Linked DNA regions of Homo sapiens: region 2 is linked to region 1. The links come from fine-mapping of genetic effects on gene expression. A gene starts in region 1. The other region holds a variant in brackets. All regions are shown on one strand. Distances are from middle to middle.

What was found. PIP is the estimated chance that this variant, and not a neighbour inherited with it, causes the effect.
Region 2: its variant is the best candidate, but not a certain one, in a credible set for the expression of CSE1L in whole blood (INTERVAL, PIP 0.81).

What each region holds. Positions count from the first base shown.
Region 1 is chr20:49,041,951-49,051,112 of GRCh38, reverse strand. It overlaps CSE1L (chromosome segregation 1 like), which reads right to left and starts at 4,801. Exons shown (of 25, transcript NM_001316.4): 1 at 4,690-4,801. CSE1L-DT (CSE1L divergent transcript) reads left to right here and starts at 5,057. Exons shown (of 2, transcript NR_110625.1): 1 at 5,057-5,253. RefSeq lists enhancers at 3,803-4,443, 4,409-4,478, 5,029-5,178.
Region 2 is chr20:48,982,198-48,991,359 of GRCh38, reverse strand. ARFGEF2 (ARF guanine nucleotide exchange factor 2) reads right to left here. Exons shown (of 39, transcript NM_006420.3): 15 at 6,520-6,631; 16 at 5,747-5,952; 17 at 2,972-3,056; 18 at 2,698-2,869; 19 at 1,924-2,075; 20 at 1,676-1,804; 21 at 162-320. Among named protein-coding and RNA genes, the nearest start is that of CSE1L-DT, 59 kb to the left of the region's middle. The variant T/C (reference allele first, on the strand shown) is at 4,656.

The sequences.
Region 1 (9,162 bases):
TTACTGTGCTTCTCTCTTCACTAGATTGTAAACTCCACTGATAGTAGGGACTTTGTGCTTTGTTCACTGCTCTCTCCCTAGAGCCTTACAATAGTGATGAGCACCCGTTATATATTTGTTGTACTATTTTAAAAAGCTAGATACCTTTGATGTTTCCATCAAAAATATTATTCTTCATCTTTATTTTGGTTGGTTGACTGTGTCAAACAGAAAGAGGTGGACACAACCTTCTAGATTCTAAAACCACAACAGGCTGAGCAAGGTGGCTCACTTCTGTAATCCCAGCACTTTGGGAGGTGGAGATGGGACGATCACTTGACCCCAAGGACCGTTCAAGACCAGACTTGGCAACAATAGTGAGATCCTGTCTCTACAAAAAATTTTAAAAATTAGCTGGGCTCAGGCCGGGCGCGGTGGCTTACGTCTGTAATCCCAGCACTTTGGGAGGCCGAAGCAGGCGGATCATCTGAGGTCAGGAGTTCGAGACCAGCCTGACCAATGTGATGAAACCCCGTCTCTACTAAAAATACAAAAAAAAAAAAATTAGCCGGGCGTGGTGGCATGCGCCTGTAATCCCAGCTACTCAGGAGGCTGAGACAGGAGAATTGCTTGAACCCGGGAGGCAGAGGTTTCAATGAGCCAAGACTGCACCATTGCACTCTAGCTCTAGCCTGGGCAACAAAAGTGAAACTCCCATCTCAAAAAAAAAAAAAAAAAAAAAAAAAAATTAGCTGGGCTTGGTGATACCCTCCTGTGGTCCTAGCTACTAGGGAAGTTGAGGCAGGAGGATTGCTTGAGCCCGGGAGGTCTAGGCTGCAATAAGCTGAGGTCTTGCCACTGCAGTCCAGTATGGGTGACTGAGTGAAACCCTGTCTCCAAAAATAAAATAAAATAAAATAAAATAAAATAAAAATAAATAAATAAAACCACATAATAGAATGAAACCTAAAATGATTAAGTTGAGATGCTAGGGTAGGACTATTTTTAAGTTTAAAAAAAAGTGAGGGGTTATATAAATATGCATGTTATAATCCCTCAAAGTTAAAATACTACATAGATCCCAGAATCTTAATACTCTTTTTTGAGACAGGGTCTGGGTCTGTTACCTAGGCTGGAGAAATGCAGTGGTGTAATTCTGGCCCACTGAAACCTCTGCCTCCTGGGCTCAAGCCATCCTCCTACTTCAACCTCCCAAGTAGCTGGGACTACAGGCACACACCACCACACCTGGCTAATTTTTGTGTTGTTTCTGTAGACATGGTTCCAGTGTTGCCCAGGCTGGTCTGGAACTCCTGAGCTCAAGTGATCCGCCCACCTTGGCCTTCCAAAGTTTATTCTTTGGGAATATTCTTTAAGGAACTATTTGTCAACAAATCCTTTTTATATCGCCTTGCAGATATAGTCTATAAAACCGAATTCTAAGCTTATCCTTAATTTGAGAAAATAAGAGAAATCAGGGACTTTTAGAGAACATTTTACAGGTATTCATAATTATCAACAAGATCAAGCTCTAATTATCTTATGCAACCACAAGTAAAGGTACTTTGACACTCTGAAATATTAGCAATATATAAATGCAAAAAGTGTTACTGATCTAAAAATGACTCAAACTAGAAACAAAACATTCATTTTGGCCAAGTAGGGTGGCTCATGCCTGTAATCCCAGCTCTTTGGGGGGCCAAGGTAAGCAGATTGGTTGAGTCCAGGAGTTTGAGACCAACCTGGGCAACATGGTGCCATCTCTACAAAAAAAAAATAAAAATTAGTTGAGTGTGGTGGTGCACGCCTGTAGTCCTAGCTACTCGGGAGGCTGAGGTAGGAGGATAGACTGAGCCCAGGTCAGCCCAGGCAACACAGTGAGATGGTGTCTCCAAAAAAAAAAGGGAGGGAGAAGATAAGAATTCATTTTTATCACCTTTAAATGAGGGGGTGATACTTTTCTTTCTCCACGTAACTATCTTTGGAAATCTCTACCAATACACAATTAAGAAACTTAAAAAAGCATCACAATAAATCAGTTATGGCAGACATCTAAATTTCCAAGTTCTTCTTGTTGAATGAATGGCCAGACCTAAGTCTAGCATCTTCCCACAGGCCCTCAATTACAGGTGGAGATTTCTGGAATAAAAGCTTTGTTTTCCAAAGCCATCTCACAGACATCTGTGACATAAGCTGATCCAAGATGTCTGCCTTTTTCTTAGATATGTCCTCAACACATTAGAGAACCATTCCCGAGGCCTTACATTTGGGAAGAGGGAAAGAGATCCAATGAATGAAAACTATCTGGCACCCACACATGAAGAACATATCCCAACACCTCAACCTACCCTCTGCTTTCTAACCATAGGAATATACCACTTAGAATCAAATCCAAACTCCTTACATTGCCTACAAAGCCTTCTATGATCCGGGTCCTGGATATTTCTCCCTTCTTCATGTAACACTCTAGGAACCTAAGATATTCCTTAAATATTTCAATATTCCAAGCCGGTTCCTGTCCTTGAGCCTTGAGCCTTCTATTCCCTCTACCTGGAATGTTCTGCCCCTCACCTTTTAATGGCTGGTCTCTACCCAAATGTCACCTCCTCAGAAAAGCCTTCTTCACCTGTCACATAATTCTGTCACTATCTGAAATTATCTAATGTTTTTTCTTTCGCCCACGAGAATACATGGTCCTCAAGGGAAGGGACCTTGTCCATTTTTGTTTTTTCACTATATTCCCAGAGATTAAGTGGATGCTCAATAAAGTTATTAAATGAATAAAGAAACAAATTAATTCCAAAACTAGAGCACTGCTCTTGCATCCATCCAATCCTGTCCCAGACCCCAACCAGCAGAAGTAATCAGAAGGGGAGAGAGACTTCCCTTGCACTGATGGTAAGAAGTGAAAGATAAAGGGTTGTAGGAGCGGAGAGACGAGGTCCATTAGGATCCTCTGAAAGCATGTCAAAAAAAAAAAAAAAAAAGAGAGAGACACACACAGAGAAAGGCCAAAGATATGACTATGTGGGCCCAAGGTGAGAAAAAGAGCAATTGGTGGAATCCAAGACTAAAGGGTCCCCTTCTGTGCCTCCAAGGAAGAATAATACTTGTGCATCTACCATGTGGCAAGCACAGGTGGGATGGCACCCACCAGGGAGAGAGAAGTAAGCAAGACAGACAAGGTCCTTGCTCTCAAACAGCTTACATTCTAGCAGTTGAGAAAGATAACAAGTAAGCAATAAGTAAGTGTTAGTAAATGCTATGAAGTAACTAAAACCAGGTGATGTTGATGGAGAGCCATGGGAGAAAGGTCCTAGACAGGTTGATTAGACAGCCTGATCAACATGGTGAAACCCCGTCTCTAATAAAAATACAAAAATTAGCCGGGTGTGGTGGCGTGTAGTCTCAGACCTGTAGTCTCAGCTATTCGGGAGGCTGAGGCAGGAGAATCGCTTGAATCCGGGAGGCGGAGGTTGCAGTGAGTCGAGATCGCGCCACTGCACTCCAGCCTGGGAGGCAGAGCGAGACTCTCTCTCTCAAAAAAAAAAAAAAAAAAAAAAAAAAAAGAAAAGAGAAAAGAAAAAGAAAAAGAAAACAAAAGAAGAGGTTGGTTAGGGGAGGCCTAAGGTGAGGGAAACTTGGGAGAGGCGGCCTGCCTTGCAAAAATGTTGGTACTTCCCCAGCAAACAAAAGGCATGTGCAAATAATTTTAAATCGGAATAACCCTGGAATATGGAAGAAACAGAAAGCCACACTGGCTAAGGAGAAAGATGGGTGGGAGAGATGAATAAACAACCGTCAGCTCCCAGGGAACCTTTGTAAACCACGGTAAATAACTCAGCGCATCCTCAAAGCCACTTTCCGAGGTAGATTCTGTTATTAACCCCATTTTGCAGCTAAGGAAATGGAGGCTCAGTGAGATGAGGTGACCAGCCTCAAGTTACACCCCTAACGAGAGGCTACGTCTGGAATGAACCCAGGCGATCTAATTCCAAAGTCTATGCTCCGAACCACCACAGCACAGCGTTTCTCCCAAAACGAGGGAACCCTCCCCCAACCCGCGTTACAGGGGATTTCTATGTCCCGGGTGTACCGACTAGAATTCTCACAAACAATTCAGCAAAGTGAGATCACGATGCCCGTTTTACAGTCAGGGATACAAGTACAGAGGTTAGAGAAGGGTGAGTTCGGGGGCTTCACTAGAGTTAGGGCAAGGGACGACGCGAGGCAGCCGCAGCTCCACGCGCCCGCAGTCCCCGCCCGGGCAGGCCTCGCCGCCGCACACTCAGCTCGCGCGGCTAGCAGCCACCGTCGCAGAGAATGGACATGCGAGCGCGACCAATAAGGAGCGGCCTTCCCGAGCGGAGAGGCGGCGGCGCAGCCAATCAGCGCCGTGATGGAGAGGAAAGGGCGGGCAATCCGCAGGCTCGCGTTAGGCCGCGCCTCAGTTGCCCTCAGCCCTCACAGGCCCTGGGGTCGCCGCACCTGGGCCAGAGACCTAGGATGCCGCGAGGCGCGGCAAGCGCTCCCTAGGGAAGCCGAAGACCTTGCCTGAGCGCACCACCCGAACCCCGGGCCCACATTCCGCTCTCGCCCAGAGGCGCGGTTCTCACTCCCTAGCGCTCGTTAGTACCGGGAGCGCCTCATCCCTTCCTCAGCTGGGCCCCAAGAGCCACTCTGGTAGGCCGTGCACGCCCCGCGCCTCACCTCGTGGGGATACAGAAACGGAGGAGGGAACCCCAGCCGCGGACCGTAGCTGGCACTACCCGCTCCTGCCGCCGCTCCGCCTCACATTCAAACCCCGGCAAAATGGCGCGACAGCGAGCCTGAGGCCAGAGCGCATGAGCGAGCGGCCCGCTGCAGGGGGCGGGGCCAGGAATGCTCTGGCCCCACCCAAGTTCGAAGGGCCAATCGGGGCCCCGCTCTGTTTCTGCGCTGATCTCACAAGTGACAATGCTCTTTGGCTCTGACCATGCCAGCAGGCTTCACGGTTCTCGTTTTCCAAAGAGGAACACAGATTCAGCGAGCGGCTGCTGGCTTCTGACCCATTTTGATGTCAGGGCTTGGCACGTAGGAGGTGTTCAATGTTGATCGATCCAAGGTCGTGCACATAGGGTCTAAGACGGAAGAGAACTTCCTGCCCCTCTTGGAGCTTCTATTTTAGAGGGAGACACGGCCAGACAGGTCTCGAACTCCTGGCCTCAAGTGATCCGCACACCTTGGCCTCCCAAAATGCTGGGATTCCAGGCGTGAGCCACCGCGCCTGGCCTGGTATGTAAGTTTTGGTACTCTTATTACAGCCCACAAACCATATGGGATCTGGCCCCTGCCAGCCTGCCTGCCCTCATCACCTTCCGCTTCCCTCCTCTCCTCACCCTCACTCAGCTCCGCCACCCCACCTTCTTCCTGTTCCTCTAAGCTCCAAGCTTATTTCCACTTTAGAGCATTTATACTTGCTGTTCCCTGTGCTGGGATGTTCTAGATTCCTGAATGATTGGCTCCTTCTTTACATTTAGGTTCCAGCTCAAATGTCACCTCCACAAAAGAGGCCTATCTGAAATTGCCCACTCACCACCACCCAGCACACAAATTAGGGTTGCCAGGTTTAGCAAATAAAATGCAGGCTGCCCAGGTCAATGTAAATTTTAGAAAAAAATTTATAATTTTCTAGTATAAATACTGTGTAGGACATATTTATACTTAAAAATCATGCATTGCTTATCTGAAATTCACATTGAACTGGGTGCCCAGTGTTTGATCTGGTAAGCCTAGTTCCATGATATCATTATGGTATTTATCACTCTCCAACTAATTGTCTCTTCTTTATTTTGTTCCTCCTTCCGCTTCTCCCCTCCTAAACCCCTGCCCTCCTCCCCATCCATAACCTAAGGGATTCTATACAGCAAGGGCTTTTCTTTTTTTTTTTTTTTTTTAAAGACAGAGTCTTGCTCTGTCGCCCAGGCTGGAGGGCTGGAGTGCAGTGGTGCTGTCACAGCTCACTGCAACCTCTGCCTCCCAGGTTCAAGCAATTTTCCTGACTCAGCCCCCCAAGTTACTGGGACTACAGGTGCCCGCCACCATGCCCCGCTGATTTTTGTATTTTTAGTAGACACGGGGTTTCACCATATTGGCCAGGCTGATCTTGAACTCCTGACCTTGTGATCCGCCAGCCTTGGCCTCCCAAAGTGCTGGGATTACAGGCATGAGCCACCACGCCTGGCCAGGGCTTTTTTTTTTTTTTTTTTTTTCTTTTAAGAGGCAGGGTCTTGCTCTGTCACCCAGGCTGCAGTGCAATGGCACAATCATAGCTCATTGCAACCTCGACCTCCTAGGCTAAAGCAATCCTCCCACCTCAGCCTCCTGAGTAGCTAGGACTACAGGCACCTGCCACCACACCTGGCTAATTTTGAATTTTTTTGTAGAGATGAGCTCTCACTATGTTGCCCAGGCAAACTCCTGGCCTCAAGTGATCCTCCCACCTCCGCCTCCTAAAGCACTGGGATAGGGCTGGGCATGGTGGCTCACGCCGGTAATCCCAGTGATTTGGGAGACCGAGGCAGGCAGATCACCTGAGATTGGGAGTTTGAGACCTGACCAACATGGAGAAACCCCGTCTCTACTAAAAATACAAAATTAGCCGGGTGTGGTGGCGCACGTCTGCAATCCCAGCTACTTGGGAGGCTGAGGCAGGAGAGTCGTTTGAACCCGGGAGGCAGAGGTTGCGGTGAGCTGAGATCTTGCCATTGCACTCCAGCCTGGGCAACAAGAGCGAAACTCCATCTCAAAAAAAAAAAAAGCCCCGGGATTACAGGTGTGAGCCACCACATCTAGCCCCATATTGATGGTATTCACAGCTGTACCCCCAGCACTAGGCACACAGTAGCTGCTTAATAAATGTTTGTTGCATGTTGAATGAAATGCCATATATAAATAAGTGAAGTCCATGGAGAAAGATACATGAGTGAAAGACATTGGTGAGGCCGGGCACGGTGGCTCATGCCTGTAATCCCAGCACTTTGGAAGGCTGAGGCAGGCGGATCATGAGGTCAGGAGATCGAGACCATCCTGGCCAACATGGTAAAACCCTGTCTCTACAAAAATACAAAAATTAGCCAGATGTGGTGGCATGCGCCTGTAGTCCCAGCTACTCAGGAGGCTGAGGCAGGAGAATCGCTTGAACCTGGGAGGCAGAGGCTGCAGTGAGCCGAGATCGAGCCACTGCACTCCAGCCTGGGTGACAGCGAGACTGTGTCTTAAAAAAATAAATAAATAAATAAAATAAAAATAAAAATAAACCATGATGGTCAGAAGACGGTGGAACATTTTAAAAAAAAACAAAGACATTGGTGAAAAAGATGTATTTTTACTATTGCAGCAATAGTACCAGTAATCACCAGTAATCATTTTAATCGTTCTAATCTGCATTTTTTTTTTTTTTTGAGACGGAGTCTCACACTGTTGCCCAAGCTGGAGTGCAGTGGTGCGATCTCGGCTCACTGCAAACTCCACCTCCTGGGTTCACGCCATTTTCCTGCCTCAGCCTCCCGAGCAGCTGGGACTACAGGCGCCCGCCACCATGCCCAGCTAATTTTTTGTATTCTTAGTAGAGACAGGGTTTCACCGTGTTAGCCAGGATGGTCTTGATCTCCTGACCTCATGATCCGCCCGCCTCGGCCTCCCAAAGTGCTGGGATTACAAGCGTGAGCCACCACACCCGGCCCACTAATCTACTTTAATATAATTAACATGTTCCTCTAGTCCTAGGGAGAATGAGCCTGATGACTTTACCATTTTCCACCTCTAAGAGCCAATCGCAAAGGAGGCTGGCTGGCATCTTGTGTCTGTCTAGCATCTCTACCAGTTTCTGTAGAAAACCCTCAAGCTGTGCCAAGACGATCATGTCTGGACACAGCTCTTGGTGTCACGGGGTGTCTCCTCCTACTGCCTATCGCCCTTTGCAGCCACCAGAATAATCATGCAGGTGAGAGCCACAGAAAGGCTGAGTGTCCTTCTCCACTCTGCATGGTTCATGGGTGACAGCTAAAGATTCCCTTGGGAATCCTCCCCATCCCAGCTCCACTACATGCACATACTCTTGGGGCGTGCTACAACTCTTAACAGACTGTGTTGGAAACCAAAGAAAACAATTCATCCACTTCAAGGAGCAGGAGACTAAGTACTCATTCATGTAGTTTCCTTTCTTTCTAAACCCTTATAAAACAATCTGTCTAGGTTGGGCATGGTGGCTCACGCCTGTAATCCCAACACTTTGGGAGGACAGGATGGGTCACCCGAGGTCAGGAGTTCGAGACCAGTCTGGCCAACATTGTGAAACCCCATCTCTACTAAAAATACAAAAATTAGCCGGGTGTGGTGGTGGGTGCCTGTAATCCCAGCTACTTGGGAGGCTGAGGCAGGAGAATCACTTGAACCTGGGAGGTAGAGGTTGCAGTGAGCTGAGGTCGCACCACTGCACTCCAGCCTGGGCGACAAAGCAAGATTCTGTCCCCCCGCGCAAAAACAAAAAAAACCCCAATCTGTCTAATGTAAGGAAAGACATTCTGAAAAGACACATTGTCTATGGTGTGCTCCTTGAGGAAGATAACTTTACATTTTATTTGGATCCAGAAGGGCGTGGACACATCTGGTTATGCTGGGAAAGAACAAGTCTTATGTCTCAATCTCGCTTTTAAAGCCCAACTGAGATGCAGAAGAGTGTTAACAGCTAAACATTGAGAAGTATCTGATTGTTGTTTCTTATCTTTTTTAAAATGGAGGCACTTTAATTTTTTTTTTTTTTTTTGAGATGGAATCTCACTCTGTTGCCCAGGCTGTACAGTACAGTGGCGCGATTTTGGCTTACTACAACCTCCGCCTCCCAGGTTCAAGCAATTCTCCTGCCTCAGCCTCCCAAGTAGCTGGGACTACAGGCGCCCACTACCACACTCAGCTAATTTTTGTATTTTTAGTAGAGATGGTTTCACCATGTTGGCCAGGCTGGTCTTGACCTGACCTCAGGTGATCTGCCCACCTTGGCCTCCCAAAATGCTGGGATTACAGGCGTGAGCCACTGCACCTGGCTTATTTCTGTTTAAATATATGTTTATATGTTATAAAAATCTACACGTTTGAGACTAGCCTGATCAACATGGTGAAACCCCATCTCTACTAAAAATATGA
Region 2 (9,162 bases), 60 kb after region 1:
GCCCCCGCCTTTCACAGCCCCAGAGAGGGTGACTTCCAGATACATGAGGTACAGTGATTTGACTTCAAGAAAAACAGAACTGACCAAATGAGATCAACAATGAATAAAAGGAAGCCAGGAGTCATCCTAACTGAGAAAAGGCAATTCAAAGAGACACGTACCTCATGCCAGGAATTCCCAAGGTAGTTGCCATCGGTGTGAGCCACTGTGATAAGCGTCTTAATGGTGTCGATGTTTTTCTGCTTCATTTCTGTGATGCTGGAGCTGGCTGTGAGTAGGGAGAAGCGAGCAAGAGCCTGAACATAGGCATCTCGTTCCAGCTGTAACAGAAACCCAAGAGAGAACACTGTGACTCCAACCTTAGTGTGGCCATTCTCACATCTGCAGGGCTGGCACACTGGGCTTCTCTGATACTTTTTGTATGCACATTGACTGGCTTTCTGCACATTAGCACAACAGTTATTCCATGCTAATGCCCTCTTGCTTTTGGAACATCTTGCAGAGGTATCTATGCACTGCCACATGTTTGAGAAGCAGCTCTCTCCTTTCTAATTGACTTCAGTCAAACTCACCTGTCCCATGTTCCACTATGTCTGTTGAATACTAAGACTGTCACACAAATTGACATCTGCAACAATTCTGCCAGGCAGGTCTGTTTTCTCAAGTTTACAAATGAGGAAATGAATTGGTGTCTCAGAGAGACTTTAGCTGAGCCAATGTCACATGGTTGGAGAGGTGGCAGAGTGGGGTCTTGAAACCTAGATGGTCTAACGTCAAAGCTTGTGGTCTTGGTATAAAAGAAAATGTCTAACTGTAAAATGAATAGGAACAGAAGATTGAGTTTTTAAAAATAAATGGGGTGCAACTTCTGACTTACAAAGTGATGCATGGGATTGTCAACCTCCTAATTTCGTAACAGTTTCAGAATTACATTTCATTTATTTGCTTGAACTTTTCAAGTTTCAAAGGTTTACAGACATATTCATATTGCATTGAACTACTTGTTTCTCCAGGGAAGAGTTGGAAATATGCGAAATTATAATAAAAACTGATGTTAAAAAGGAAATAGTATTTTTAAGCACCAAAGCAGGCAAGTTAGGCAGATGAACACGAAGTCTGCTTTGTCAAATCCAGTCAAGAAGCTTGGACCCTACCTATTATTATTATTATTATTTTCTTTGAGATGGAGTTTCGTTCTTGTCACCCAGGCTGGAGTAAAATGGCGCGATCTCGGCTCACCGCAACCTCCACCTCCTGGGTTCAAGCCGGTCTCCTGCCTCAGCCTCCCGAGTAGCTGGGATTATAGGCATGTACCACCACACCCGGCTAATTTTATATTTTTAGTAGAGATGGGGTTTCTCCATGTTGGTTAGGCTGGTCTCGAACTCCCAACTTCAGGTGATCTGCCTGCCTTGGCCTCCCAAAGTGCTGGGATTACAGGCGTGAGCCACTGTGCCCAGCCTACCCATTCTTAAAGACAGTTTTAATCCGTATCTCCATTTTTGCCCCTAACGAGCTGTCATCACAAAGCTACGGATTTCTTGTCAGTAGGCATAAGTAAGTAGCTTGCTAAGAGTCTTGATTAACTGAAAATTTCTGATAATTTCTAAGTTTTGCCAAATCTAAAAGAGCACAACCCACCAGTATCTCTGGAGTGTTGCTGACTTACACCTACCTGCATTCCAAAGATGCAGGCGATTCGGATTGCACATCGGATGCCTTCCAAACACAAGGAGGCCACTTCAGTGTCATCACAGTTCTGGAGTCCGATGCTGTAGGCTGCCAATAGTGGCGTCCACACCAGCTATCATGGAAGGAAGATTTCAATAACATCCAGAGTTTTAGCGTGGAAAGAGTACTTCTCGCTGGCCAGCTTCAGAATCAGGCTTAGCCACATGCTTGCTAAGTTCTCAGGATACTCACTTTGAACATTGGCCGGACATGGTCCAGGTGAGTGGCACTGGTAAACGGGGCTTTGGCATGGCTCACAGCCTCCATCAGAGCTTTGGCTGTTTTAGCCATTTGCTCCATCTCTAAGTTGTACAGCAGCCGCCGCTGCTTTTCACTAGCTACATCTGTAAAGTAAGAGCATGATAGGTGTGGCTAGCAGTCACTGAGGGCTGGCTACATGCCATACACTGTTTCAAAAGATGCACAATGATTAACTCCTAAATCCTCCCAACCATCTCGTGAGTCCATTACAAATATTATTATTACCATTTTACAGATGGGAAAAATGAGGCAGAGGGGGTAAGTCACTTGCCCAGGGTCATACAATTACTAAGTAGAGGAGCTGGGACTTGATCTAAGGCAGTGTGGCTCTAGAGCCACACTCTAAACCACTACCCTTTGCTGCTTCTCAAACAGTGAAACTGACAGCTCCCCAGGGGCCATAACTAATAGAATTCTAATCAAGGCGGACACAATCTGAATTAAAGAAAAGTTTTAAAGAACACTTTTTGGGAGTAATTTAGTTCTCAGATTACTAATTTTAAATTCCTTCTTGCTCCTCATCAGAAATCTAGCAAGACAGTGACATTATAAAAGTCCCAACATAATCACAATAATTAATTCAATCACATTTCCTATTCAGATATCCAGCTATGCACATTAAATTTATCACCAGAGTATTTAATCATGCATTCTGATACACTAAAAAATTAGAACTAAAAGAAATAATTTGCCATTAGACCTTACTCTGCTTAGTAGATTTGGTTGCAATCGTTAGCTCTTTTGTTTCTTTCATTGCAATTTTCTTGCCTTCTATCTCTTCATAGATGCTTGAGAGATACTCTTCTGGCAGATCTTTACTATCATTGATACCCCGATTCATTTTAATATACTGCTCTTTCGTCATTTTATTTTTTACCTGTAATTAAAAAAAATTAAAAACCATTTAAAAAACATCCAATTGCCCAAGTAAAGCCACTTATTTAGCTAATACAACATGTAAATCATTAAAGTGCTTTACCTGAGGACTGTGCAAGTCTGTAGTCAGCATAATAATTGAATACGCTAGGACATAAGCAGTGTCAGCACTAGCAAACAGAGTTTGCCTGGAGAAAAAAATTCGAGACATCAATATTCATGGTGATGCGGTTTGGAAGGTACAATGCTAACAGAGACACACTTCACGAGAAAAGCAGCCGACTACTCCCCTTGATTCCAAATGAGGCAAGAGTTTTTACGCTTTCATCATCACTGAACAAGACTTAGCAACCCAGAGTGTAGAAAAAGCTCATTAACAATCTGTATCAAATTTTAGCTTCTTTGGCAGGGCGTGGTGGCTCAGGCCTGTAATCCCAGCACTTTGGGAGGCCGAGATGGGTGGATCACCTGAGGTCAGGAGTTCGAGACCAGCCTGGCCAACATGGTGAAACCCAATCTCTACTAAAAATACAAAAATTAGCTGGGCGTGGCAGCGGGTGCCCATAATCCCAGCTATTCGGGAGACTGAGGCAGGAGAATTGCCTGAACCCGGGAGGTGGAGGTTGCAGTGAGCTGAGATTGTGACACTGCACTCCAGCCTGGGTGACAGAGCGAGACTGTCTCAAAAATAAATAAATAAATAATAAAAATTGAGGCTTCTTTGAATAAAGCAATTTCAAATAATTTTTTTTAAAAAGACTCTAAGAAGCATCTGGGGCCAAGACTAGGGTGAAGCAAGTGAGCACATCAGGAGACCTTACACTTGGTGCTGACCCTGAGAGAGGGCATCTCACTATATTTCACACACTAAGCGCTTGAGTGCCTCCCCCACCTTGTCCTGTTCCTGAGAACATCTATTTTGTGCCATGTACTGTGCTAGACATGAGATATAAAGATGACTAAAACTGCTGTTTAGCTGTTATTTATAGTCTATATTACCCATTATAACATTTAATAGTAGAAATACCATGGAAAATATTTATGTTGTTCTAAACAATATGTTGGTGAAGTCTGACTTTTTTGCCTTAGGCAAGAAGAGAAGGACAACATGTGGATGTACAGCTTCATACGATATGAGGCTGAAGCTAGAAACTGTTCTGTCCAAACTGTCCATAACAGGAACAGTAGAAATTTTGAAGAACACAACAAAGGTCTTTTAATATGAGATGAAACTGGGTCACATATTTACTGACTGAGCAAAACAGACCAAGGCTCCCAGGTCCACATAGGAGATACGTTTAAAGTAAACAGCATCTAATTATGCCTTCATAGAGAGTTCTAATGTCCATTTGGTTAAAATGATGATATGCTGCCTTTGCCAATCCTGCCACCTCCTGGGGACAGCCTGCCATACACTTGGAAGACTGGGAGCAATTAATATGAAAACAAAGTTGACCTGAGAGGCAAAACAGTTATTAAAATGTTTCAATCAGGTGTGGTAGCTCACATTTGTAAATCCCCCACTTTGGGAGGCTGAGGCAGGAGGATCCCTTGAGGCTAGGAGTTCAAGACCAGACTGGGCAACACGGTGAAACTCTATCTCTGCAGAAATATTATACAAAAAATTAGCCAGGCACAGTGGCATGCACCTGTAGTCCCAGCAGTTCAGGAGGCTGAGGTGGGAGGACTGATTGAGCCCAGGAGATCCAGGCTGCAGTGATCTGTGATCACCCCACTGTACTTCAACCTGGGCAAGAGAGCAAGACCCTGTCTCAAAAAAAATAGTT[T/C]CCACTGAACAATTTCCACATCATGGTCACAGCATATTCAGACATATTTCTAATTTAATGTTCAGTGGAGAGAACATGAGTTTTTTTTTTTGAGACAGAGTCTGCCTCTGTCATCCAGGCTGGTGTGCAGTGGTGTGGTCTCGGCTCACTGTAGCCTCTGCCTCCCAGGTTGAAGCAATTCTCCTGCCTCAGCCTCTGAGCAGCTGGGATTACCCAGCTAATTTTTTTTTGTATTTTTGGAAGAGACGGGATTTCACCATATTGGCCAGGCTGGTCTCGAACTCCTGACCCCAAGTGATCTGCCCGTCCCGGCCTCCCAAAGTGCTGGGATTACAGGCAAGAGCTACTGCATCCAGCCCGAACATGAGCTTCTGAGTTAGAGAAATCCATATTCAACCCTGGCTCTGCTCCTTACTAGCTGATTAATTTTGGACAGGTTGCTCAATCTCTCAGATTCTCAATTTCCTCATCTGTAAAACAGGGATACTATTCCTGGGCTTGCCATTAATTAAATTAAATGCATGTAAAACCCATGGCATGGCCCACACACAGGAGGTATTTAATAATGGTTTGTTCCCCTTCCTATTTCCACTTCTTACAAAATCACGAACCGCCCATCAAAAAAGGTCCCCAGATAAAATCATGTACTTTGGTGGTTTTTATTAGTTATGTAGCTATTTCTGTAACCTGCTCATCAGTATGCAATTAAAGAAAAACCAAAATCCTTGAGATCTACCCCATATATTAAATCAGGGGAACTGTTTTTGATTAGGGAAGAGGTGCCCAATTGTCTCCTCTCAACTTATGAAACTACTCTTTTATAGTTGCTAACAGCATGGGCTTTAGCTGTGTGATCTTGGGCAAGTTAACCTCTCTGGTCCTCAATCTTTTTGTCTGTAGAATAGGGACATAAACAGGTTGCTGTGAGGTCTTATGTGAAATAATCCCTTAGCACAGTGCCTGGCACACGGTAAACAAAAGCTTCAGTTGCTTGGCACAGATATACAAAGATTAAACCCCAACCAAATTAGAATTAGCGTTCTGAGGCAGGCAAACAGATGATCTGGAAGGGACTCAAAATCGGCGCTCACCCTTGGTTGCATTCTATGTATCTTGCGGCAAACTTCTCCATTAATCGGTCAATCTTTTGGGCTTCTCCAGGTAGGCGGAAACCTTCTAGGAATGTCCGCAGGGCTGAGACAAATTCTTTTTCACAGAAGTCAAGTTGGTCCACGTAGGCATACATCACCTCCTTGTTGAACCTTGCGCTATCTCCCAGAAAATCGCCTACTTGGGTCTGAAACATACACACTCACTTATATCCAGAAATTGTCAAATACGAACCCTCAGCAAAAGCCAGCAGCCAAAGGGTGGAGTCAGAATAGCCTGGCCCTAACTGCCCAGAATAGGCTGGACTGGTAAAAAAGCTAGGGAACTCCCTGACCTGCCCACCCACCCACCCATTCCAGAAGCAGCCTGTCCTGCATGGATGAAGGAAGAGGAGGGGGCACAAGAGACTTAAAATGGAGAGAATGACGGGGCACACTAAGGAGGTTAGTTGCAGACAGGCAGCCGTAAGAACTTTCTAGCAGTCAAGGAACACTTCCAGCTCTGACTCTCTTCCAGCAAATATGCAGCCACCTGCTGGGAGGCTAGTTTATTCCCATCAAAGAGCTTTCTGCAACACTAGCCAACGGGATACACAGGACTGCTGTAACCCGGGGGTGGACAATAGACAATGTATAACCCGGGGGTGGACAACAGACAATGTACTTAGGGCCAGACAATCTCGAGGTTAAAACTGGTAAGGGCTCACAATCACCTGACAGAACTCACATGCAAGTGCTACACCCCCAAGCCTTACGGAATCCAGGCGCTCCTCCTGGTGCAGGAATTGGGCTATGTCTTCAACTGACGTTCCCAGCATGCCCTGCTCCTGGAGAAACTGGATCCCCCTCTTGGGTTTCTTGTTGAACCTGTTTCAAGCAGAGATGGGACACAAGTTGCTTATTTCAAAATCTGGAGGATAGCAAAAGCTGGTATTTGAGATAAATAATAATAGAATACTATGAACATGCCATCACGTATAAGCTAGCAAGGTCATGTCTGTCCTGGCAGCTTTTCTAAATTCCACCTTCAATTTCTGACCCAGCTATACCTGGTCAGAGTCTGCTGATTGTCACCTCATATCCACTCTCCCCTTCTCCAACACTAATAGAACCCTACGTGTTAGCTGGACACACTGCCATGTGGAATAAAAAGAACATTTCCCTGCCTCCCTTAAATAAAGGATGGCCATGTGATAAACTTCTAGCCAGTGAGATATGAGCAGAAGTGGTGTGGGTACTTCTAGGAAGGACCCTTAAACAAAGCTGACTCAGGTGGGAAGTCTGCTTTTTTCTCTTTTTGTTCTTTCCCTCCTCCTCTCCAGAATGTTTGTGGGATGGCTGGTACTCCAGCAGTCATCTTATACCATGAGGCCACCCTCTCTGGCTAAGTATGGTGAAGCAGACAGATAAAAGGAGCCTGGATCTCTGATGTCCTTAAGGGCCACCGTAGCAGCCTTAGACTGTCCACTTTTGGATTTCCTTGAGAGAGAAATACATAGTTAAGCATGTTATTTTGTATTTATTTTTTTCTTTCTCTACTTTTTTTTTTTTTTAAGAGACAGGGTCTCACTGTGTTGACCAGGCTGGTCTGGAACTCCAAGTGATCCTCCCACCTTAGCCTCCCAACGTGCTGGGATAACGGGCATGAGCCACCATGCCCAGCCCATTTTTTATTTCCTGCTAAAGGAAGGCAAAGCTAACCAATGTATAGACTCAACTTATTATTTACCAGGCCTGAGCTGGAGGGTGATATTCATGAGTAAGCACAAACTGGCAAGCGTCATGAAAGATACAAATAGGGGCAAGGGCAGAACTTAACTTGGGACCTGTTTAGATAGTGCAGTTGCTGAAGGCCTCTTTGAGTAAGAGATGTTTTACCAAGTCTGAGGGATGGAAAAAAGCCAAGAGAATTTCAAGCACAAGGCACCATGGTAAAAAGAGCTGAAGGTGTTCAAGGGACTGAAAATACATTGTGTGACTCAGGGGAATTGGCAGGAGATGAGATCAGCAAGGGAGGCCAGGGGCTGGGTCAGGCCATGGTGCAGAACAGGAAACCTGGAATGATTTAGGCAGGAGAGTGATAAGACTTGATTTATGTTTTAAAAAGATTACTTTAGCTGCTGTGGGCAGAATACACTAGAGGGAGGTGGAGTGGCGGCAGTAGAAATGAGAAGATCAAACATGTCAGTTAATAAGTGAGTACTGTAATTTCAACTCTTAAGTTGAACTTACTAAGTTAACTAATCATTTACAAGTTGGAATATATGATTGTGTATGTGTTGATGTGTGTAAAAGACTGGAAAGAAACATAAAGATTTGCCAATGATTGTGATGATGGTGCTGTGGTTATATGGGAGAATGTCCTTTATTTTTCAAAGAGATTCAGTTAAGGTCTCATGATGGCTACCAATTACTTTCAAAATGGTTCAGAAAAATATATACGTAAATAAAACAAGTAAGATTCCGTCCCAAGATGGCCAAATAGGAACAGCTCCGGTCTGCAGCTCCCAGTGTGATCGACGCAGAAGACGGTGATTTCTGCATTTCCAACTGAGGTACCTGGTTCATCTCACTGGGACTGGTTGGACAGTGGGTGCAGCCCACGTAGGGTGAGCTGAAGCAGGGCGGGGCATCGCTTTACCCGGGAAGCGTAAGGGGTCGGAGGATTTTCCATTCCTAGCCAAGGGAAGCCATGACAGACTGTACCTGGAAAATCGGGACACTCCTGCCCAAATACTGCACTTCTCCAATGGTCTTAGCAAATGGCACACCAGGAGATTATATCCTGTGCCTGGCTCAGCAGGTCCCACGCCCACGGAGCCTTGCTCACTGCTGGCTCAGCAGTCTGAGATTGACCTGTGAGGCAGCAGCCTGGCAGGGGGAGGGGTGTCTGCCATTGCTGAGGCTTGAGTAGGTAAACAAAGTGCTGGTGAAGCTCGAACTGGGCAGAGCCCACCACAGCTCTGCAAGGGCTGCTGCCTCTATAGACCCTACCTCTGGGGGCAGGGCATAGCTGAACAAAAGGCAGCAGAAACTTCTGCAGACTTAAACATCCCTGTCTGACAGCTCTCAGCAGTGGTTCTCCCAGCATGGTGTTTGAGCTCTGAGAACAGCCTGCCTCCTCAAGTGGGACCCTGACCCCCATGTAGCCTAACTGGGAGACACCTCCCAGAAAGGGCCGACTGACACCTCATACAGGCGGGTGCCCCTCTGGGACGATGCTTCCAGAGGAAGGATCAGGCAGCAATATTTGCTGTTCTGCAATATTTGCTGTTCTGCAGCCTCTGCTGGTGATACCCAGGCAAACAGGGTCTGGAGTGGACCTCCAGCAAACTCCCACAGACCTGCAGCTGAGGGACCTGACTGTTAGAAGGAAAGCTACAAACAGAAAGGAATAG